Regions from separate parts of the Homo sapiens genome. Here all the other regions are linked to region 1. The links come from fine-mapping of genetic effects on gene expression. A gene starts in region 1. Each other region holds a variant in brackets. All regions are shown on one strand. Distances are between the middles of the regions.

What was found. PIP is the estimated chance that this variant, and not a neighbour inherited with it, causes the effect. A credible set is the group of variants that fine-mapping cannot tell apart.
Region 2: its variant is the best candidate, but not a certain one, in a credible set for the expression of POLE4 in neutrophils (CEDAR, PIP 0.56).
Region 3: its variant is the best candidate, but not a certain one, in a credible set for the expression of POLE4 in tibial artery (GTEx, PIP 0.52).

Annotation. Positions count from the first base shown.
Region 1 is chr2:74,953,872-74,962,055 of GRCh38, reverse strand. It overlaps POLE4 (DNA polymerase epsilon 4, accessory subunit), which reads right to left and starts at 3,413. Exons shown (of 4, transcript NM_019896.4): 1 at 3,164-3,413; 2 at 2,631-2,715; 3 at 1,910-1,951. The coding sequence starts at 3,376. LOC105374809 (a long non-coding RNA gene) reads left to right here and starts at 3,177. Exons shown (of 5, transcript NR_187884.1): 1 at 3,177-3,324. RefSeq lists silencers at 2,965-3,204, 3,275-3,534 and enhancers at 2,826-3,326, 3,327-3,827.
Region 2 is chr2:74,882,180-74,890,363 of GRCh38, reverse strand. It overlaps HK2 (hexokinase 2), which reads right to left. Exons shown (of 18, transcript NM_000189.5): 12 at 8,125-8,184; 13 at 4,775-4,870; 14 at 3,971-4,070; 15 at 3,691-3,874; 16 at 2,306-2,461; 17 at 886-1,119. Among named protein-coding and RNA genes, the nearest start is that of LINC01291, 23 kb to the left of the region's middle. The variant G/C (reference allele first, on the strand shown) is at 3,702.
Region 3 is chr2:75,156,024-75,164,207 of GRCh38, reverse strand. The region is part of intron 1 of TACR1 (tachykinin receptor 1); the gene reads left to right. It overlaps TACR1-AS1 (TACR1 antisense RNA 1), which reads right to left. Exons shown (of 4, transcript NR_168010.1): 2 at 7,893-8,004. Among named protein-coding and RNA genes, the nearest start is that of TACR1-AS1, 5.8 kb to the right of the region's middle. The variant C/G (reference allele first, on the strand shown) is at 4,523.

The DNA.
Region 1 (8,184 bases):
TAGTTAGAAATAAACGTAACCACCAGAAAAGCTCAAAACACAAACAAAACAGTGGGTGGACGGCAGCTGTACTTCATTATAAGCCATTAGGTAACGATTTGATTTTCAAGTATGGATATGTATTATAAAAACGAAAAAAATGTATTTACTTAGACCATACACACCTAAGGACATAAGAACATTTATTTTACCCAGTAAAAAATAATATAATGCAGACTGAATCCACAGGGGCTATGATGGCTAACATTCAGATCTACCAATGTAGGACAGAGCAAAGGGATTCAATTACAGAGATAAATGAGGATGAAGGCAGAGGATGAAAATAAACACACCAATCATTCAATAAATGGCCATTTATTAAAAATCCAAGCTAAGCACTATGCTGTGATAGAGGCTAGAGTGGAAAACTACATAAGACCACCCCACTTCTATTCCTAGTACCCTCCAGTTTATTTTCCCCAGGGCAGCAATGTTGTGCACTTAAAATACAAATCTGATCATATCACTCATGTCTTTGAAAAGCTGGTAATTAAAAATGAAGAGGTAAAGTAGGCTCCAAACATTTTTGACTGCAGAACTTACAGAAAGTCTGTCACAAGGAGTGCCTGCCTTAGGTAGGACTAACAAAAGTTAATTTTAAGAAAAATGAGTAGGTGGAAAGAGAGGCTGAAGAAAAATCTGCAAATTAAAAGAATGCTCAATAGTCTAGACATAGAGTTGGCCATGGTAGTCTATCTATCTAATAAGACATTTAAAAAATATCTATCAAAAGGACCAGGGGCCTAGGTTGACAGGGAGATGCAGAACAAAGGAGTAAAAAAGAGTGGAATAAATCAAGATATTTCTAAAGGTAATAAGGCTTGAAGGAGGTAATGAGAACACCCTGGGAGAATAAGGATACATGGCTTTTGCTAAGCTATTCAATCAAAATACATGTGTCGCTCAACAACAAGGATACATCCTGAGAAATGCATCACATCTTCAGGCGATTTCACCACTGTGTGAACACCATAGAGGGTACTTACACAAAGCTAGATGGTATAGCCTACTACACACTTAGTCTACAGGGTATACCTATTGTTGTCAGGTTACAAACCTGAACAGCATGTTACTGTACTGAATACTGTAGGCAACTGTAACATGAGGATAAGTGTATTTAAACAAATCTAAACATAGAAAAGGTAATGTATTTCATTAGGATGTTATGACCACTACCTCACTGGGCAAAAGGAATTTTTCAGCTCCATTATAATCTGATGGGACCACCCTCATGTGAGCAGTCCATGGCTGACCAAAAAGTTATTACGCAGCACATGACTACATACGTGTAGTGAAGAGTAAGCTGATCAGACTGAAGAATTAAGTAGCAGAAATCGCTCTGAGGCTAGGTAGCTAAAATTAGGTATTTCAAATATTTTCTTTTTTAATGACAAAATTTAGTTAGTACACAAGTTAATCCATGACTCCTAAAAATACAGACAAGTACAAGTCTTATTGCAGCAAAATAATCACTTCACACAGATTGTTGAAGAAAAAAGAACAAGCGGTGACCCTTTAAATGTTAACAATTGTTTCTGATCTGTAACATGATGAGGGGGGGCAAGCCTGACATTTAGGGATGGCGATCAAAGTAGGAATCGAACTTTCGAATTCATCTAACTCCACTGGGATCTTTATATTCCCTCCTATTTCTTTATGGTTAGCAATTTTCAGGTAGAAATTTTAATTCCCCAAGGGAGAAAACTGAACCTCACTAGGTTTAGCAAGTTACTTTTTTCTATCCTAATAGCAAGTGCGGAGAATTATCCCTACACAAACAAGAAGCAGGCATCCGTTTTATGAGATTTTGAATTTCACATCAACATGCAAAAGACAGGCGGAAATGATTGCCCACTGAGAGGGAACTCACCTTCCAGAAAAGCAAATTCATCCACAGCTTCTATTGCATTATCTGAAACACAAGGAAAAGAGACACCTGACTAACTTCAGCCATGCTGACCTCAGTCAGAAAACAGCACAATCTGCAGTGAAGGGCATGAGGCTTTGGGCAAATGAGGGCATTTATAAGATGCGTCCCTTGCTGCCTTGAGATCCATATCTACTCTACCAGCAACTCTTATATATATTAGCTGTCTCCCTAGAAGAGTTAAGAAAAGCATAGGCAAATACCATTCAACGCGGGGGTTGGGGGCCTCCTAAATTACCCCTAAATTATTTATTCGCTTTGCTCTTAAAGTTGTCAGAGAAGAACGTGGCAATAGACGCAGGGCGCATGAGAATACGGTATACGAAATCTTACCCAGGTGAGGGTTCCCAGCCAGACAAGAGTCAGAAATCAAATCCCCAGTTGCTAGGTGAAAAAGAAATATCTTTTTCTGGTGCAATTTGGCAGAAGGTATGAAGGGATCCAGTCCGCTACGGCAACCCCAGACACCTTCACACACTGCCCCGCCACCCCAAGCAGACAGCCTCTACAGGTAGGGCTTCCTGGCACTGTGGCCAACAGAAACCATCCTGGGGAGAGACGCTGTGGCACCTCTCAGATCAGAGTGACGTCTTCTCAACCTGCACAAGGGGAAACCAGCCCAGCCCTCCCTTGTCTGTCCCCAGACACTGCAGTGCCACTCTACCCAAGTCTCTCCTCTGAAGGGTTTTCCTTTTTCCCTGCTGAGCGCAACAGTAGGCATCTTTTGCAATGGTCTCCACAAACAGTTCCTGTGAAGTAAAAAAGCAAAGTTTTAGTAATGGGTTCTAACACACTGAGGAGGTGAGGGCTCCGGTTTGTGGGTGGGGGCAGAAAGGGAGAAGAAAGGCTCGGGGCAAGAAAATGTTCTGGAAGCTAAGATTGTCCTGGACTTCATGAAGATCCATTCCGCTACCCTCTTCCCAGTATTCTCCCTCATTCACTAAAGACTCCTACAAGTTCTGTACGAGGCCCTGGAGATACAAATTAAAGTCACTCACTATCCAGGTCCTCAACAAGAGGGAGGAGTGTTAACAAAACTCGCACAGGTCCCCGGCCCCTTTCCTCCGCCTTCCGGGTCCACGCCCACATCTCAAAACCCGGGCCACGCCGCCCTAAGCCCCGCCCGCGGGAGGCCCCGAGGCCCCGCCCCACACTCCACCTCCCCCACTCCCGCATGCCCTCGCGCTGCAGGCGCACCGCGGCTCGTGCCAGAATGAAGATGGCTTCCTGTCCCGCTAGCGTCACGTCGGGATCTGCCTTCACCAAGGCCTTCACTCGCGCCAGAGGCAACCTCGAGAGACGAGCCCCAGGCACACTCGTTGGGGCCTGGGGCTGCGAGGCCGCTGCCTCCCCAGCAGGTCCCTCCTCCTCTCGGGGCGTCCCGCTTCCTGCCGCCGCCGCCGCCGCCATCCCGGCCTTGAGCGTGCTGCGCGCGGCCGCCGACTGTGCGCGCGCATGCGGCGCAGGCCCTTTCCCGCGCGGGCTGGAGGCCACACCCTGTGTAGGCGCGCGGCTCCGCCCCTACGCGGCAGTGCGCTGCCAGGAAACCGGGTGGGCGGGGGTCGGGCTCCGGCTCTTCCCACGCGCCTAGCCACCCGTGGGCTGTCGTGCACTTGGTTGACGCTACCGGCGACCCTCTGGCCCCGACGGGCCTGTGGAGCCCAGGCACCTCCCATTGGTGCCTGTGCCTGGCTGGTGAGGGGAGAAATCTAGACCAGGCTCGCAAGAGAGTCTCCGTCAAAACAGAGTGTGCATATTCCAAGGCTAACGAGGGCACGTGTCCGAGGGAGGCCCGGCCCTGGAGGGCCCAGCATCGTGGAAGAGGGTGCCAAGGAGGCAGCGAAATCTGGACCAAATTCAAGGATAACCAGTTATAGATGCTCTTGAAGGAGGGGTAGGGCTTTTGGCAGGCAGAAATGAAGAAATTCAGCCCAGCCAGAGGAAACAAGAAAAAGTCATGGAGGCTAGAAAAGATGAAATTGTGGTGGTGAGGCATCCACGTTTGTTCAAAAAGAGGTTGCATCACAGCTTTGGTTCTCAAATTTGACCTCAAGATCCCTTTACGGTCTTAAAGATTGTTAAAGAGCCCAGGGAGCTTTTGTTTCTGTCAGTTATATCAATACTTACTATATTAGAATTAAAGTTTTAAAATATTGATTTAAAATTACTAATGCGTTACCAGCTAACAAACAACATTTTTATGACAAGTAATTTTTTTTAAATCTAGTAAGAAAAGTCTCTAATGTCTGATTTCATGTGAGAACTGGATTCTCTAGCTGCTTCTGTTGCTAACGTTAGCACTTCTCAGGTAGCTCTTAAAAAACTACTACATCTTGAGAGAATGTGAATGAAAAAGGCAACCTCATAGTAGTATTAAGAAAATAATTTTGGCCTCATGGACTCCTGAAAAGGGTCTCCAGAAAATTCCCACCCCCATGAATCCCCACACCACACTTGGAGGTCTGATAGCGTAGAGGAACAGTTAATATTTAAAATAGGTTTAATCTAAGTCAATCATAATAATAGTGAACACCTTTAAACATTTACTATGTGCATGATTCAAAGTGTTTTAGATTTATGTAAATCATAACTTCTGTAATTTTCACAATACCCTATTGAGGTAAATATTATAACCTTCTTTTTCAAACCTTATTTGAAAAAATTGAGGTGCAGAGTGGTTACTGAGTCGCATACACAGGGCAGAATGTGGTGAAGCCAAGATGAAGCTGAATTAAACACATCTGAAATCACTCAGTTCCAAAATTATGTAGTAAACTCTGACTGGTGTAGGAGTGGAAAGGTGTGAAACCTTTCTTTACCCATTTTAAGGGTCACAGCTGACACTCCTATAACACACACAAAAAGCCTAACAAGTCTAATCAAAGTTTTACATGACATGAGAGTCCAAAAATGCAGACCATGAGACCTAGAGGAAACTATTTTTATGCTTAGGTTATATGAAGAAGGGATCGCTGTGTAGAAATGTGATTAGAGGCCTGGTACGGTGGGTCACACTTGTAATCCCAACACTTTGGGAAGCCAAGGCAGGAGGACCGCCTGAGCCCAGGAGTTTGAGACCAGCCTGGGCAACAGATGGAGACCCCATTTCTACACACACACACACACACACACACACACACACACACACACACACAAATTAGCTGGGTATTGTGATCCTATAGTCCTAGCTACTTGGGAGGCTGAGGTGGGAGAGTTGCTTGAGCCCAGGAGTTCAAGGTTACAGTGAGCAATGATTGCACCACTGCACTCCAGCCTGGGCGACAGAGAGAGACCCTGTGTCTTAAAAAGAAAAAGAAATGGGATTGGACAAAAAGGGAATGATAATAGTCTAATGGTAATAGACTGAATGGGGAAACCCAGCAAGGCCTGTCTGTTCATATTCTTCTTGGCCTCCCTGTGTAGCATTCCTTCTGGTATTAGGGCAGGACCCTTCTGGAATGAGGGTCTTCAAGGGAGAAGGCAGAAAATAACCTTTCTAGGTTTTACGACTTGCTTGGAGGAAGGAGAATTCTAGTTTCTATGACCTGCGTTGGGAAAGAGGAATTCTGGTTTCCATGACTCACTGCGAAGAGTGGTGATGTTACAGTGGGTAGCTAGTCAGACACGAACAGGGCAGGATAGGGCCCCCACGCTCCACCAGGAATGTCAGAAGATCATCAGGTGATGGTCAGACAGTGGTCACACCGCCTCTCTAAAATAATAATTGCTCATAGCCAGCGCCAGGGAAAGGCAGTTTCCCTATAGATAGAAAAACCCTGAAACTGATGATCAGGAGCTTCCTGATGAGATCTCAGGAGTTGGGCGAGCGGGCTCACGCATGCACACTAAGAGGCAAAATGGTGGAATTTAACTGATATATGACCTTCTGGGGGCATTCTACTGAAAAAGGGAAGAACGCCTCAGGTGAGCATGCTTACAACTTCAATAAATACACTGCACTTGCTCCCCTCCCCAGCGCTAGCAGGCTACTGTGCATTTCGACAACCCACCCCAAGGGAAGAATCAGGGTAGAAGGGATGCAAGACCCCAGAAGTATGCCAACACATAAAAACCCAAGTCAAAAGGTCAAACCTTGCACTTGTCCTTCAAGTCACCCACTTGGGCCTCTTCTCAGTGTACTTTCCTTCCTTTCGTTCTTGCTCTAAAGCTTTTTAAGAAATTTTCACTCCTGCTTTAAAACTTGCCTCAGTCTCTTCTTTTGCCTTATGCCCCTCAGTCGACATCTTCTGAGGAGACAAGAATCGAGGTTGCTGCAATTTGCTGCCAGTAACTGTAATAACTTCTACTGCTTACAGTGGAAAACAGGACAGGAGAAGTTCAGAAAGACCTTGCTTCTGAGGCCTTTCCAATTTTCTTCAGTTCAAAGTACTCAGCATTCCAAAGTACCATACTTTGGGGTATCATGTAATGAGCCCCAACCCTGAATTAGCACAGAGACACTCCACTATAGCAGAATAAGAGTCTTGGCCCAGAATTAAAATCTGCAGAAGAGGATATGAGTTGCTGAAAATTGAACCAGAGCAGCCATTAGGGCCTCAGTCCTGGGTTCTTTTCAGATTACATTTATGGACACTCTCACTCATGGAAAGCTCCACACAAAATTCATAAAAGCATGACCAGATTCTTGTGTCACAGTGCACAAGAACACCTCACAAGAGCTATACTCCAGCAATCGCAAAGTAGCTAAGTACTAAATTGACCTAAATTCTGAATTAACATAAGACAGTTGACAATGGTGGGGGTGTTACTGGACCCCACCACTTACCCAAAGTTAGCCTTTGGGTCAGGGGTTTCCTTGCTAGAGTCCTTTCGTGGTCACCAGAAAAATGTTACAGGAAAGGGGTTCTGATCCAGACCCCAAGCGAGAGTTCTTGAATCTCACACAAGAAAGAATTCAGGGCAAGTCCATAAAGTAAAGTGAAAGCAAGTTTATTAGGAAAGTAAAGGAATAAAAGAATGGTTGCTCCATTGGCTGGGCAGCCCTGAGGGCTGCTGGTTGCCCATTTTTGTGGTTATTTCTTGATTATCTGCTAAACAAGGGGTGGATTATTCATGTCTCCCCTTTTAAGACCATATAGGATAACTTCCTGATGTTGCCCTGGCATTTGTAAACTGTCATGGTGCTTGTGGGAGTGTAGCAGTGAGGACGACCAGAGGTCACTCTCCTGGCCATCTTGGTTTTGGTGGTAAGTTTTAGCTGGCTTCTTTACTGCAAACTGTTTTATCAGCAAGGTCTTTATGACCTGTATTTCGTGCCAACCTCCTATCTCATCCGCTGACTTAGAATGCCCTAACCATCTTGGAATGCAGCCCAGTAGGTCTCAGCCTCATTTTGCCCAGCTCCTATTCAAGATGGAGTTGCTCTGGTTCACACACCTTTAACGGGCAGGAGGAGTTAAGAGTTCTTGAAAGGGCTGAGTCAACTTGGCTTTCAGAGGATTCTCATTTCAACCCCCTTTTCTTCCCAATTTTGTCTCATTCATATGTTCCCTGCCTTTCCTCCTTTTCTCCTTTTTTGTTCCCCTTCGTGTTCTTTTTTTTTTCTTTTCTTTTCTTTTCCTCATCACTTGAATGTCTCACCACTTGGTGCAGTCCTTCTCTCCCTGGTTTGACTATGACTAACCAAGAGTTTATGGAGACCAGACAGGACTTCCTGACTATAAGTATTGAACAGCACTAAGGTGTGTTAGAAAGGGAAATCACGTTTCACAGTTTTTGAGTTTCAGTGGAAAAAAGGCAGAAGAAACAGGAAGACGAAGGTTGAAAAGCTCAAAAAGCCACACACGCACACACGGTTCGCATTCCAGTCCAAATAGAATGAAGGCTAAAAATATCTTTAAAAGGCTACGTGATGAAAATTAATGCAAAAAAAACATGATGTGTGTTAAGTGAAGTTTGGCCTAAAGCTGTCTCTTTACATAGTTTAAGTTTGGCCTAAAGGTTTCTTCATATGTAGAGAAATGCAAGGTAACTTGATGTGAAAACGGTCACTTACTCTTGTAAGAAATAGCCAAGTTTCAGCCAATTACAGGCAGCCAGCTGCTCAAACCAGGTTCAAACCAGGTTCAAATAAGGCAAACATCAAGCTGTAACCGTTCCAGCTATTTCTGTACCTCACTTCCATTTTCTGGACATCATTTTCCTTGTTATCCTACCATGCGGCAGGCCTAAAATCACACTGAATCTATTCTGGTTCT
Region 2 (8,184 bases), 72 kb after region 1:
TCAGAGCCACATGTGCTCCAAAATGTCATCGGAGGCAAAAGAAGCAGACTTACAGAGTCACTGCTAGGATATCACAGTGATCACAGATCCTTCCTATATGGACCAGAGAAAGAGAGAGTTGTGATCTGCCCCAATACAGCAGGGTCAGGACACCCTCCCCATCTACAAAGCTGAGGATGCCATGTCCCAGGGTTGGTGGCTGGGCTTCTGCCCCCTCCCAATCCTCATGAAACTATATGTACAATAACAGCCTGTGGCTGTTGCCTGTCAACCCCTGCTCTAGAATGTTGAAAAAAAATCTTGCTCCAGAGTTCTAGCATTACATTTGCCAGAATGTTCACAGTAGCACTGTTTGTAATGGTCAAAATCTAGAAGTAACCTAAATATCACCTCAACGATAGAAAAAACAACATACTCAAAGGTACGCTATACAGCTCTGAAAATTAATGAACTACCAACTGTATACTTCAATGCGGATGCGTCTCAAAACAAACACTGTGTGAGAAAAGCCAGCCACAGAAGAGATACCATGTGATTCTATTTGTGGCAAGTTCAAAAATAAGTAAAACTAAACAATATGGATGCATACCTACATATATGGGGGTGGAAAAGAAAAGCAAGGGACTGATTCAGCACAACACTTACCCCTGGCATGGGAGAATGATGACACAGTTGTGGAGGGGCTCGGAGGGGGCTTCCCACGGTGGGGGGTGAAACACAGGCCTACTTCTGATTATGAATCTTTAAACTATAATCCATGTATTATATACACTATTTGGAATGGCTGATAATTCACTATAAAGTAACAAAGGAAAGAGAGAAAGAAAAGGGAAAGAACAAAGACAGAAAGAAGGTAGGCAGGGGGGGCTGGGATCAGGCACTCACTGAGGATGTAGCTTGTAGAGGGTCCCATCCACACCCACTGTCACTTTGAGAGCGTCCAGCCCACGGTTTTCTCGTATCCTGTCCACCACAGCGGCCATGCCTGCGCCACAGAGCTGGGCTGCCCGCCGGGCCACCACAGTGCACACCTCCTTAACAATGATGCTGTCGTCACAGGTGCTCTCAAGCCCTAAGTGTTGCAGGATGGCTCGGACTTGCAGCAGGGCCAGGCAGTCACTGGGGTGGGAGGGAGACAGCAAGTGTTCAGTCATGCACCAAGAAGGCTGGTAGCCTACCACACCAGGGCCTGAGTCCTTACAGGGGAGGCTCTGTGGGGGTCTAGCTCTCCAGGAGCTGGCCCCTCGAGGTGGTTCCCATTCCTAAATTCAGACCACTGCTCAACCTACTGCACTGCATTGACTCTTCCTGACGGTGACAGGAATACAAACAGCTCCTCATTCTACTCTCCCTACTCCAGATAGACCATTACTACTACAAAGTAGATACTCAAAACAAAGCAAATTCACTGTTTATCACAGTGGTCAGTTACAAAGCTCTTTCATGTCCATTTTCTCGCTGCTGTTCATGGGTTTGCAGGGCAGGAACTAACCAAGCAGCATTAGACTCGTGCTTTATTTCTGCTCTGCTGCTCTGGGTGGTCTGAACTGTATTTATATGCTATTTACGAAGGAAGTGTAAATAAAGTTATAGAAAGAAAATAAACCCTCCTATATAAAGAAAGCTATTTTAGAAGCCTGGAATCACCTCGCTGAACATAACAGACCTATAAGCTAGAATATATCTTTCTATTCACTGGTGCAGATGCCCGAGGGGTCTACTCACATCAGTTGTCTAGTTCCTGTTCTTCTCTGCCCTGAGAGTAATGGCACAGCATTAATTTTTAAAGGGCTCTGAAATTCACTGTTCTAATTTGGAGATTTTCCACCATTTGACTGTAGGAGGGAGGCTTTGCTCTAATGAGCCACTGTGTGGCATGTGTCTGCATTGCCTGACGTTCCAACCTTTACTCAATCCTGGCTGCCTGATTACTGCAGCCAGCAGTTAGGAAGGGCTTTCAAGCCAAGTGTGGATGCTTTAATAGGTTATCTTCCTCTGTGCGTTTCAATTTACATGCTATGAGCAGGTATCTTTCTACCTTTGATACATGGTCTAAAACCCAACAATATCACTTTGCATGACCTCAGGCCAGGCTTAGCACAAACTTTCATGAGAATGCTCTGTTTGCCCTTAAAATGACAACTGCCCATAATGTGCTTTTAGTAAACACTATAGACATGAATGTGTTTGCCACTAAACTGACTTTTGTATGAGTCATGCCCTGAGTTATGGAAATCCTTCAGTTTGTCTGCCAGTGAGAAAAAAGGACATGGCCCCCCTGCTACCCTGAGCCCTAAGCTCTCACCTCTCAATCTGAGACAAGAACTTGGTTTCAAAGATGCCCCTTGTCTTGAGCCGCTCTGAGATGCGGCCTCGGAAGAGTAGTCCACGCTTGGTGAAATCGATGAGAATGTTACGGACAATCTCACCCAGGTACATTCCACTGATCATTTTCTCGAACCTGCAATGCAAGTAACATTCATGGAGGTTAAGTAGGAAGGTGGAGGGATGTGTTGAGACAGGACAGGCCAGCTTAGTCACCCCCAGTGCATCAGCAGTGGCAGACAGGCAGACTCCCCTGATGGGAAAGGAATTGCTACTTGATTCACTTGGGCAGGATCCCTGGTGTCTTTGCATGCTAATTCACAACCTTCAGCAACACTGACCACAGTGCCCGAGGCCCGTGGGGCTCCTGGGGAAATAAGCCTTGGAAAGGAACCCACAGGGAAAGGAACTCATTTCCTTTCCAAGGCTTATTTCGAAATTTCAAGAAGCAACTCGAGAAGGAACACACCATAACCCCACTGGACTTCTCGGAGCAGGGGAGAATGCTGAGTCTTAATCTTTAACCTCACTAGGCATTCAGTATACATTCTCTTGGACCTAACCATCATTACTCAAGTAACTACTGCCAGCTGTAGGGCCCCCATCCTGGCCACTGGAACTAAACGTTATTATGCAGTGGCTTGAGGGTCTTTTGGTCCTGAATCCTGCCTTGAAAAAAAAACGAGGTCCCTAGTTTCAACCAATAGCCCATCACCACCCCATCTTATCTTGACCCAGCCTGCTTCCTTCATTAATGTTGCCTGCCTGGCCCCTAGAGGCATTTTAGTCTGTAACTTCTATTCTAGACACATGTTTTGCAAAGCGTATTCTGCAGGACTAGGGTGTTTGATTAATCTAGTTAGGAAACACTACAGACAACATCTTAATGAGAAGTGTGTTAGATCTTAAGCTATTGTCTCTTAGCTCAGACCCCGCTCCCCTACCATGCACAGGACCTTGTGACACTGGGGCTGGCCCCTTGCTCAATTCTGACAGTAGGTGGTGCTCGGCGCTGGAAGATGGAGGAGGGAGAGGATTTGCTCCTGTCTGCATCACCCAAGAGATGCTCTTCAGCCTGTCAGCAGCAGGTGCTTCAACTTTCTACTTGTTTCTCCTTAGAGTGCCAGACCTAGGGTCTAGTATTCTCCCACCTGTTCTCCTAGGCTTTTGGGTGGGAGATGCTTCTTACATTTACTAACTCAGAACTTTCCAGGTGCATTCGACAAGAAACCCTTTCCAAGAAAACCTCCTTTATTAACATCTCACGAGAACCGGCGTCCTGGGAGATGCCATTGTGGAAGCTCTGATCACTTGTTGCCATCCAGTCCTGGGATACACTTAACAGGGCCCCAGTTGGGTGCCTACCTCTGCTTGCC[G/C]GGGTTGAGTGAAAGCTCATCCACAGCCACATCAAATTCTGTGCGGAAGTCATCTAGGCATCCATTGTCCCCGAAGGCCCCCCATTCCATGTTCACACACATCCGCCCCTCTTCTCCTTCCACCAGTTCCACGTTGCGCATCTCCTCCATGTAGCAGGCATTGCTGCCCGTGCCTGCCAATCACAGGATACCAGGGCCTCACTCAGCACCAACCCCTCCACACCCAAGGCTGTGCATCCCCATGTGGAAAGGACAGTCTGGGTCCTTACCAACAATGAGGCCAACTTCACAGTGAGGGTCTTCAAAGCCACAGGTCATCATAGTTCCGACTGTGTCGTTCACCACAGCAACCACATCCAGGTCAAACTCCTGAGAGGGAAGAAGCAGATGCCCAGTTCACAGGTGAACCCCAATATTCTCCTTTCAGACAATTGCATGGGAGATTTACAGGTATATAAAATATATATCATACACCATGGCTGACCCTCTCATTCCATTCAGGTCTGTGCTTAAATGTCACCTCTTTGGTGAGACCCTCCCAAGTTGTGCTATTTAACAGTGCCCCTTTCCAGCACACTTGCTCCATCTGCTCTCCTCACCCCACTTCACTCCTTTTCTTTCTTTTTTTTTTTTAAACTCTATATGGTCTAAAAAGGGAAGGCATGAATAATACACCCCTTGTTTAGCATATAATCAAGAAATAACCATAAAAATGTGCAACCAGCAGCCCTCATGGCTGTTTTGCTTATGGAGTGGCCATTCTTTTATTCCTTTACTGTGTGTGTGTGTGTGTGTGTGTGTGTGTGTGTGTGTGTGTTTCACAGCTCTTAACAGCACCTGCCACTAGGTCATGGACTTTATAGAACAAAGCTTTGTTGTGGTCACTCCTGAACCGCCAGTGCTGAGAGCATTGCTTGACACACAGTGCACACTAAACTGCTGAACGACGCTTGAGTTAATCTTCCTCCCAACCCATGCAGCCACACTTACTGTTGCCTTCACTTTCTGAACACACAGACCAGGCCAATCATTGAGGAGCTGACACATCAGACCTCGTGCCATGTGTCTCCTACCTCTCGCCGGTGGATCGCTTCCTTCAGCAGGGTCACCACGTCCTCGCCCTCGCAGCCAGATGCCTTGAAGCCTTTTGTCCACTTGAGGAGGATGCTCTAAAAATCACACACAAGCATGGAAAGGACATCAGGGAAGAGCTCCCAGGTCAGTTCTGGGGGTCCAGCTGTGCTTCTAGCTCTCAACCTCACAGGTCAGACGGATCCCCCAGAGTCACCAATCATCTCACCCGCAAATTAAACTGTTCCTAAGGTACTTACTTGGATTTATTGAGCACCTACTGTGTAGCAGGTACTGGGCTAAGCATAGATCATGCATTACATTATTTAACCCTCACAGCACCCTTGTGGAACATCTATCATGTTTATGGCCACTTTATAAGAAACTGAGGCTCTGGAGTGACTTGCTCAAGGCCTACAGCTTGGAAGAGAGAAGCAGGATGCACTCCGAGGCCCTCCGACCCCAGTGAATGGGCTCATAAGCACCACGCAGCTGACCCTGCTGTGCAACTTCTTCCTATGTGCTTGGTTCGCTCACTGGGCAAAGCAGTTTGCTCTGTCCCTATCCTTTACATCAGAAGGGTCAGTGTATGTCTCCTAATTTTCAAACTCCAGCATCTGGCGAACAAGTGCTTTGCCCACAGCTGGGTGACAGCTAGGCTTCACCACCACCCCATGTCTTTCAGTGAGGAAAACAACTCCAGGCTCCTCCTCAGCATCCTCAGTGGCCCCTTGCCTTCAATGTGGTCCTCTGGGAGCAGATGCTTGACGGCTTTGAACCTGGGAGAAATGCTTTGGGTTTTATTCCCTGATGCCCTCTCTGCTGCCACAGCCCACCAGGAAACAAGCCTCAGGGCTTCAGACTCCTTACCCAAGAGCTCGGCTTCCATAAATGAGCTGTGTGCTCATAACCCACCCACTTGCATGATTTCTCCAGGCCTTGCTCAGGGATTCATGCCCATCAGCTTGGCATTTCATTCACATCAACCTGGAGGTGTCACACTGTGTTCAGACCCCAGGAGATTCAGAAAAACAAAGCACATACCCTCAGAGAGCTGGCTGACCAGTGTGTGCTGATCTCCACCCAGCTCTCTACAAGTTAGCTTCACATGTTTGACGCAAGTTTGTGTTTACGGGATGTTCAAATAACATAATTTCAGGTGATCCTTACTGATGAGGCAAGTGGAGGCCCAACAGCTGGGAAACACAGCTGGGGGCCACAGAGCCCTGGGGTCTCTAACCCCAGGGGCCTCTGCACTGGTGGGATTTCCCCATCACAGGAGGGTCTTGCCAGAGCCCACAGGAAGAAATGACTTCTGCTTTATTTGCTCTTAATTTTTACGGCTCTAGACCTAACACGTGCTCCTCAGAGAAACCTGGAACACAGAATAAAACCTAATCCAATGGCCTGGAATCTCACAATTCAGACAGAAACAGTTAACACACATTCTGGTTTCCCTGGCAAATATATAAATAAATATATAACCTGTTGGCATGAAAAGTTAAGATAGTATCTACTTGAAAATATTTTGGTAGGAAGTCTAGAAGAAGGATATACACTGGAGGGTTATGCTTTTATCATCCCATTAATTGTATTTTATGTTTTTTTATAAAGAGATTACCATTTCTAAAGAAAAGTAGTTTTAAAACTTTTTAGTCATATCACCAGTAATTTTTCATGTGATTAAAATTTATTACAAATAACTAGTGGCTGATACTAGCTAATAAGTGGGTCATAATTTATTTAACTACTATCTCACTATTCAGCAAGTTTGTTTCTAATATCTTTGTTATAATAAGTAATGGTCCATTAAATAGTACATAAGAATTTGTCCACATGAGGCATAAAGCAACGCTAGTCTGGTTAACACTACATGAATGTTAATAGGTGTTGAGAAATGCCAGACTAAGCTGAGTTTTTATTGCAGAACTTCCTAAAACCTTAATTATACTAGTGCACATGGGGAATTCTCTCAGATAAGGAGGAGAAGGAGGCATCTACAAAACTCAGTGAAGCCAAGGTGAGGGCCACTGTTGCAGGGACCCTGTGGGAAATGCTGCTCTTTCCTTGTCACTAGGGTAGGCTCTTCTGCGCTGGCCCAGCTCTTTCTGTCACTTGCTCCCACCTACATGACCCTCTCCACAATGGGCAGCCTGCTCACCTTTCTTTCCCATCAACTCATTCTTCTGACTTGTTCCAAGTCCTCCTGACATCCCCCAGGTATGCACTCGGATTAACATCTGTCTCACTACCTGTCCTGGGGGCTTCAGTATCCATCCCACGAGGGCCACATTCCAAACAGCAGCTCTTCCTTTTCTGAGCTTGCTTCATCAGCCCAGCTTGTTTGTAAGCATCTAAAGGTAGGAGCCATGCCTTTTATACCTAGCAGTGGCATGTGCAACATACCACACACCGGCAGCGTGCACGTGCACTCCTACATGACTGAGACAGAGACACAACTGCTTAAAAACAGTCTCCAGATACCTAATGCTTAGGGCTACCAGTCATCAGCAGATCCAGCACTGCCTACTCAGTTCTCCTCCACTTCTCGGGGCACTCATGTCCAGAACATCTGGGAGTGCCAGATCCTCATGCACCTACTTCATTCACCCAAGGTAACCTGAAGAGGAGTGAGAAGCAAGATGAGACCAGAGAAGAGCCAGGGCATCCAAACAACAGGATATGGCATGAAAATGCCCTGAGCCCATAACAAGGGCCTCAGGAGCCCCACAGCATAACTGACAGCACAGGCTCAGGCATCAGGAACCCAGAATCCAAATCTTGGCTTGGCCAGTCCCAAGCTATTATGACCTGGAGCAAGACACCCAGCACCTCTGTGGGGCTTATCTTCCTTTCTGTAGAATGGGTATTCAAACATATCTCTTATATGGTTGCTGTGAGGGTTAAACGAGATAATGCAGGTAAGAAACCTAACATAGTACCTGGCACACAGTAAGTGCTTAAAAATGCTATATATATATATATAAGTTCAATAGAGATGGGGTCTTCCTATGTTGCCTAGGCTAGTCTTGAAATCCTGGCCTCAAGTAATCCTCCTGCCTCAGCCTCCCAAAGTGCTGAGATTACAGGTATGAGTCACCACACCCGGCAGTTGTTAACATTGAGTAGCATCATCATCGTTGTCCCAAAGGCTGTCACAGCTGAGCTAACCTACTTAACCTCCACCAGCCTCAACTTACTCATTCCCATCAAGGAGCCCCTCCCCACTACTGGTAACTCACGCCCTCCTTTCCTTAGTCTTAGCTCAACTTTCTCCCCTGCTCCATACCTGGCTGGTTTTGTTTAGAGTCAATAAAGCCCACAGGAGAGCCCTCCAGGAAGGTGCTGTTACCTCGTCCAGGCTGTTCTGCTGGCAGGGGAAGGAGAAGGTAAAACCCAGAGGCAGGGACAC
Region 3 (8,184 bases), 200 kb before region 1:
TCACAGGTGCCCGCCACCACGCCTGGCTAATATTTTGTATTTTTAGTAGAGACGGGGTTTCACCATGTTAGGCAGGATGGTCTTGATCTCCTGACCTCGTGAACCATCCGCCTCGGCCTCCCAAAGTGCTGGGATTACAGTTGTGAACCACTGCACCCGGCCCACTCCTGCTTTCTTAGTTTGTATTTGCTTGATTGTTTTTGTACCTCCATTTGTTTACTTTTTTAGGAGATTTTTTTTTTCAAGACAAGGGTGATAATTTTATATCACTTCATGAAATACTCCAAAGAAATAGAAGAATCATTTTGTGCAAAATATAGACTGGTTAACTAACATGAAGAAACTTAAATGATTCATTTTAAATTTCATTGAATCAAATGACTAAATCCATGAAGAGTAATAATGCAATATTGGGATACAAATCACTCTCTCTCTCCCTTGCTCTCTTCCCTTACTACTAAGACATCTACATTTTTATATTGAATTGATTATTTTCTTCAAAATAAGTCATAAAATACTTCTAATGAAAACAACGTTGAATATCATATTTTTAACACACCTGTGCACCAACTTTGTAGAATAAGTCATTAGGGAAGAAGTTCAGAGTTCACTGTTTCTATTTCAACTTTTTTCTCATTTATCTGATAAAGAGGTACTTTAAAAATTATAAGAAATCTGGCAACATTTACCTTTGCCCTGCCAAGCAATCCATTTAGAATTGCATTTAATAGAATATATGCCTATGAAACACAAAACTTATTATTAAGACTTATGTAAATGCCTTTATTTTAGAGTTTGTACTCTGTGAGTTTGTACTGCTGTGAACTGATTCACATTTTCATTCAAGGCAAATAAATATTCTTAGGTCCTAAAGAACTTGAGCCCAAAAGGAAAGCACAAAAAAGCTTATGTAAGGGTAAAAAAATTGATAAAAGTTGCCATAGACAAACCCTGACTTCTCTAGTTAGCACAGCACTTTGGTGCTTGCTCTCCCAAAGTCTCCTGTGAATCAATGGGGACTCTCCACCATCTGCTGACTCAGGGATCAAATCTCCCTCCATTCTGTGACACTGTCATTTCAACACATGACTTCCAAGTTTGCCATGACTGGGTAAGAGGGAAGTGGAAGTGTCATGTCAGCTCTTAACTGCCTTAGCCAGGAAGTGGCACACATCACTTTCACTCACATTTTGTTGGTTAGACTTATTCATACAGCCTTGCCTAGTTGCAAACGGACTGGGAAGTATAATCTCTTATGGGACCAGGACAGGGAAAATATGAGGTAGGCCCAGTAGTCTCTTCCACGCATGATAAATGCATAGTTCTTCATACTCAAGTATAGCAGATTGTAACTGGGATTCTAGCATGGAATTTTAACAACCTTGAAACATCAACAAAATTTTTGAGTCATCTATCTTTCAATGAAATGGTAATATACAATTAATGTGCAAAAAGATTTTAAGCAGAAAAAAGTGGAATCTTGAGTGTCTCTCAGACAAAAAATACTGCACAAAAAATTGCTAAAAATATCATCATATTGACCTTCAATTACAGGGAACTGTGTTCCTAACCAAGAAAGTCATGAAATATAATTAAGTATGTCTGAGATAAAACAGAACTCAAATAGATCTATTTCCTTTGATACATTTTTCACTTCTAGCTGGAGCTTCTCAGTTTTCACTGGCATGTTTTATTCTAGTCCCAAGGTTCTCTTTCCTAAAATAGAAGAACTAAATATTGTAAACTTTCATATGAAGGCACTGGCACTCTTCCAGTACTATTTGGAGATCCAGAACCATTGGCCATTGGCTAGAATTAGTTAGGGAACAAAACACTGTGTGCCTCTAACACATTTTTTAAAGATTCTGCCATTTTGCTTAAAGAAATATTTAGGTGGGGTAATGAAAGCATGCAATACTTTAGGATGCCTTTGACCTTCATAAATCTGATTATGTAAACTTTTAATTGGATGGCTGTATTCTTTTGAATTTGTAAGTGTCACAGAGCAATAACATTTTATTCTAAAATGCACTTTCAGAACATTCTTTGGCTTCCATTCTGCAAATGGATTTTCAATACGCTCCTGAGTGATATTAATTGGAAGGTTTCCAACATTTCCCCTCCCCCCAACACAGACTCACTTCTTTTTTTTTTTTTTTTTTTTGGAAGAGTCAATACTTGTTAGCATCTCAATTGGTCTCCTCCTTCAATTTTGACAAATTCATCTAATATTCCCTCTGGATTAGTGATTACCTGATACATTCACTGACCTAGACTCAATATTGCCCATCTGTTTCTCTCCACAGAACTGATGAGAAGATATAGCTCAATATCCATAAGCCATATTTGTACACAAGTTTTCCATCTTTTAGTTTGTAACTTTTCCTGAGTAATAGTTTTTTTAGGAAGTCCATATGGTTTTTCACATGCTTCTGACCTTTTAGAGTCATTTTCGTTTCATAAAAGTGTTTTAACCATTAATGTTTCATGTAATAGTGACTATGCTTTGTCTACTTCTGCTTCTATTTTAGGTGATTTGTTGTTCTCTCTACTGTTTTCATTTTTATACCTCCTTTACTATATGGACTATTTTCTTTGACTTTGTTTTGTCTCATGACTTGAAAGTTGCGCATTCTGTTGTTATTTTCCTGGTAGTTTACATTAAAAATAACTTACTTGAAACTATTCTTTTCTTCCTATCAATGCCAAAAATAAAACTGTATTGATTGTACCTCTGTGAAAGATTAACATTTTAGTATGTATTTCTAATTCCCTTTTCTTTTCTCTCACTGTCCCAGTTTTTTATGGAATGTTAACTCATATTCTTACTATTAAATATTATGCTGTATATTTTCTCTTTAAAGAGCTATTTTTGACATTTGTAATAAGCCTCATAATGATATTATAACTATTATTAAGCTTTAATTTTCAATTTAAATGTTTGCAAGATTTGCCATAATTCTTTTAGTAAACAGCTTTCCTTTTTTAATATTCTTCTCAACCGTTTATCCCTAATGTCTTTGAGTAGTGTGGTTTTTGTTTGTTTTGGGGGGTTTGGTTTTTGTTTATTTTTCCAGGAATGGTATTGTGAATATACTTCCTGATCTCTTATATTCATGAGAAGTTCTTTCTGTTACCTTAGCACAACTTAGGTAGACAATTATCACTCTATAAGATTTCTCATGTCATAATTTTGTAAATGTGGCTCTGTTATTTTCTGGCATTATAATAGAAGATTAGAGCCCAGCCTGATATTTTTCCTTTATAGGCAAAATGTTTACCTTCTTGGATGGCTGGTAGAATTCTTTCCTTACCATTGAAATAAGAAAATATATCAGAATATCTCTGGATATGTATCCCCTCTCTCACGTATATTGATTTTGCTTAGTGTAAGCAGATCCCAACTTTTATTCATTAAGGAACTTTTTTTTCGGTTATGTCTTAAATCATTACTTCTGTTCAAATTGGTTAGTTCTCCTGTCCAGGAATCCCTATTTCCCCATTATTTTTTATCTTATTGTTCTTTTCCTTTTCATTGTGGAGCAACTTCTAAAGCTGGTTCTTTCATTTCTAATTTGCTTTTTTGCAATTTACCTGTTCTGATGCTGAATCCGATTTTGTAACTGCATTTTTAACTCTTTCAGAATTGTTTCTCATCTCAATCATTCTTTATTCCTGCCTTTTTGTCCCCAGCAAGTTCCTTTTTATTTCAGCTTCTATTCCTTTGATTTCCAGTCAGAACTGTTCCACAGTGTCCATGTTATGAATAGCTTTTAAAGTCCAAAACTACCATATTTTCTAATTTATTTTGGATTTATTTGCATAACAAATAAATCAAACAAAGATTTATTTGTTATAAATCTTCTTTCAAAACTGTTTTTTTCTGCCTTTTGAGCATTATGTTCCCCTCCTTTTATAATACGTACTCATAATTCATTGTCATCAATTTCATTTTTTTTTCTATTTACTCATTCTTTAATGTGCAAAGGTCTGCTCAGGAGAGATTTTCCTGTAAACTCCCAAAACTCCCAATGTATGTTTTTAATTTTGTTCCCCTGGCTATCCACATAACTGCTGGTACAATTCTTTTCTCTTTTCTCTGCTGGTTCACTTCTCTTATGAACAAGTGTTGTTTGATATTCTTACTTTCCAGCCCATCTTTTGCTGTCTTAAAGTCTTGTATGTAGTGTGAATATATTGCCATGGGGAGATATCCAGTCCCACTGCCTATCTTTTCATGAGTGGTATTGATTCCTGTAGAGTCAGACCTTCTTCCCAATTCTTTATGTGCCTGATCCAGCGAATGGTACCTCTATTGACATGTAGTAAATGCTCGGTAAATAGTTTCTCCAGGATTCAATATAACTCCCAGAATGCACTACGACTCTGTCAGACTCAGCTCTTTTTAACTGCCACCCAGACCCTCTAGGTATAAGCACTCCTAGTCACACAACATTTTATGGGTAATTGTAGCCTCAAGCCAGTGCAAGAAAACAGTAACTAATATTAGGGAAAGTGTGGT[C/G]AAAATGGCTCTATTATTCTAGAAGTCAAATTGGGGCTAGCTTTCCTTTCTCTGCTGGGAAGACTCCATGTTTCTAAGGAAAGTACCTAGAGTGGGCATAGCTTTATTGACTAAAAAAAGATGGTAACCCTTATCTTTTTTCCTGCCTGTAACTTCCTCAGAACTTTGGCTAGTGGAAATTCTTCCTGTTTCCTGGCATATCACTGAGGAATTCTCGGAGTTTCCAGTTTTACAGAAACTAGTTTCTCTTTGTTTTTTCTTAGTTATATCACAGGAAGTTGGGGAGAGAAAAATCAGAATTTATTAGATTTTTAAATAAAAAGATAATACAATTAATTCATAATTATTTACATTTAACTGAGTTCTGTACTTACCAGTAGCCTCCTTTTCACATGTCTTTCTTATCTAAATTCTTTACTTTGGTTTGTGTTTCGGTTGGCTTGAGTATTTAACACTTTAAATAACGTAACTGAGGAGGGCTTGTGTTCAGGATATACTTTCTGAACCTTTACAGACCTAAAATTAGTTGCCAGCCAAGCTGGACTAAAAATCAGGTCCCCTACAAAATTAGCTACTTTGGCCTTTCCTACAAAATTAGCTACATTGTTTATCTCTCTAAAACATTAAAAAAAAAAGGTACCAATAAAAAATTATTTTACCAGGTAGTGGTTGTAGTAAGAATTAAATGAGATAATACTTCTAAAGCACTTAACACAACAGTCTTCCAAAGTTGGTACAATTACTAGCTCCATTTACAGATGAAGAAGCAGATGCTCGAGGTTGAGATAACTTGCTGGAAGCTGCACAGCTGGTTGGTGGCAGAGCCAGGCCTGGGACATGGGACCGTTTGAGTTCGGAACAGAGGCCCAACTCCAGCTAAATCACCACATTGCAAGCATCTCACCCAACCACCCATTCCTCTCTTTTCAGTTCTGCTTCCTTTGCGATGCTGGGCATATTGATTTGAGGAATACTCAGCTTTCAGGTCCCAGCTGCCAAATTAGATTATGTTGCAAACATTCAGCTGTCTCCCTATGCAACATCACATATTCAGCAGGCATTTCAACAAAAATTAATTGATGAAAATATATGGCAATCACCCAGAGCTGATAAAAACAACTTTTAACCCTGCTGCTAACTACTAACAGATTCTAAGGTTAGAACTTTGCCTGAGGCCTGCGATAGAGCACTCTTCCCCCAGGACCATTTTAATTTTTGCTGTTTATCAAAATAAATACATATTTTTTGATATTTTAGAAAATAGATGTCCTATTGCTGCCTTTTATAATAATCCCTCTTATTAAGCCAGACACTGGGAATACATAATATGCATTTTCTGCCTGGGAAAAAGGCAGAGAGCAAGGGAAAGTTAATAAGCTGTGGAAATCTCTCCATGTCCACTTGGTCAAATTAAAATTCTACTGATTACATAGTTGCCTAGAGTAATGCTTTTCCGATAAATGCTCGATCTTCGTCCATAGGAAGATCTCAGGAGACATTTACCCGAAGTGAATCAGATCCAAAGATAGTAAAAAGTGTTGGAGGACCCAGTTGGGTCATAGTTGGAGTCTTGTATTCTCTTTGCCCTTAACCATCTCTATGATCTTTGATGCATTCTTCACACAGCTAGGTTTCCATTTCTCAGTCTTAAAATAAGGTTTAGACCTAACCTATGAGGTAATAATGAGAATTTCCCAAACTCATGTGTGCATATGCAAGTTTCTTGAGAAACAGGCTCTAAACTAAAGCTCTTTTTGGTGGGGACTTGGACTCAGATTCTCTTACTTCCCTGTCTCTAGGTAGAAACACTGCAAATTGTTTTGCTGCTGTAAATTCTCTTTCAATAATCAGAAGATTTTCTTTCAGTCTATTTCCCACATCTTCCTGATAATGGCCAGTAGGCAGAACTGAAAGAACAGAATGAAATATTTGAATTGCTTAAAACCCACATCTCCCTGAATAAGATTAATACATGTATCAGGTTTTATTTCTTCTTCTTTTTTATAGAGGAACAGTTCCATCTAGTGTAAGGACAGGGCACTCCTCTTCCTGACTTCAACCCTTAGGTGGGGGATGTTCCCAGTGAGTATTTGTCACAGTCCTGGCCCCAGGCTATTTCAGGGCTGCCTGGCCACTTACCTGCCCCTTCTTTGACACATTGTTTGTGAACAGGTGGAGGAACAAGGTGGGTACAATCCCCCTTCTTAACTCTTAACAATGCAAGCTCTGATTTTCCTATGTCAAATCCTGTCTTCGTAGGTCGTTATGATGCTTGTTTGTCAGGACCTGAGTCCTCTCTTTTGGGAGAGTAGGAAAGAGAAGCTTGAGTACCTACCCAAAGTCACTGGGTAAGCCTTGCTTCCATAGGTGGGTGAGGAGGACTACAGTGGGCAGATGGTAGTAAGGAAAATGAAAGGAAAGGGAATTTGTTTAGACTTGGAGGAGAAGGGTCTAGCTTTCCTCCAAGTCTCAGTTACCAGTTTGCTCCACGGTGGTGCCTTTCCTTCTTCATCCTCCTCCTTATCAATCCCCCAACCCCTGCCCTGCCACTACCACAGACCTGAATACAAGCTGATGAGATAATCCCTTCTAGCCTCTGTTTCTGAAAACCATTGATCCAGGTCAGCAGCTGGAATGCATGGGAGACATGAGTCCTTTGGAGAAATGGATGGAGCACCCAGCCCCGACTCCCATCTCCATCATGGGAGGAGAAGAGCTGTCAGCTTCATAGTGCTGAGCATTCTTTCTCATTCTCTTAGTCATTTTAATGGAAATGCAGTGTATCCCTACATTTCACTATCTCTTTACTTCATTTAGAAGAAAACTAGACACTAATGAGCATACCCAAATCCAATGTAGAAAGACAGATTGAAACAGGGGTTGGTAAACTTTGTATGAAAGACCAGTATATTCATTTCCTAGGGCTGCTATAACAAATTACCACAAACTGGGTGGCTTGAAACAAAAGAAAATTATTTTCTCACTGTTATGTAGACCAGAAGTCCAAAATCGAGGTGTTGGAAGGGCTGTGCTGCCTCCAGACACTCTTGGGTAGAATTCTTTCTTTTTTTTTTTTTTTTTTTGAGACGGAGTCTCGCTCTGTTACCCAGGCTGGAGGGCAGTGGCATGATCTCCACTCACTGCAAGCTCTGCCTCCCAGGTTCACACCATTCTCCTGCCTCAGCCTCCTGAGTAGCTGGGACCACAGGGGCCTGCCACCATGCCCGGCTAATTTTTTTTTTTTTTTTTTTGTATTTTTGGTAAGGATGGTCTCGGTCTCCTGACCTTGTGATCCGCCCGCCCTGGCCTCCCAAAGTGCTGGGATTACAGGCATGAGCCACCGCGCCCGGCCTCTTGGGTAAATTCTTACCTGCCATTTCCAGCTTCTGGTGGTTCCAGAGGTTCCTTGGCTTGTGGCTGCATAATTCCAGTCTCCACTTGTTGTGACATGGCCTTGTCCTCTGTATGTCTCTTCTCCTCTTCTATCGCTTACAAGAATACTTGTTATCATATCGAGGACCCACCACAATAATTTGTATGCACAATATGATATTTGTCACACTATTCAACTCTGTGTTATAGCACAAAAGCAGCCATAGACAATATGTAAACAAATAGTGTGACTGTGTTCCAGGATATCTTAACTTATGGACACTGAAATT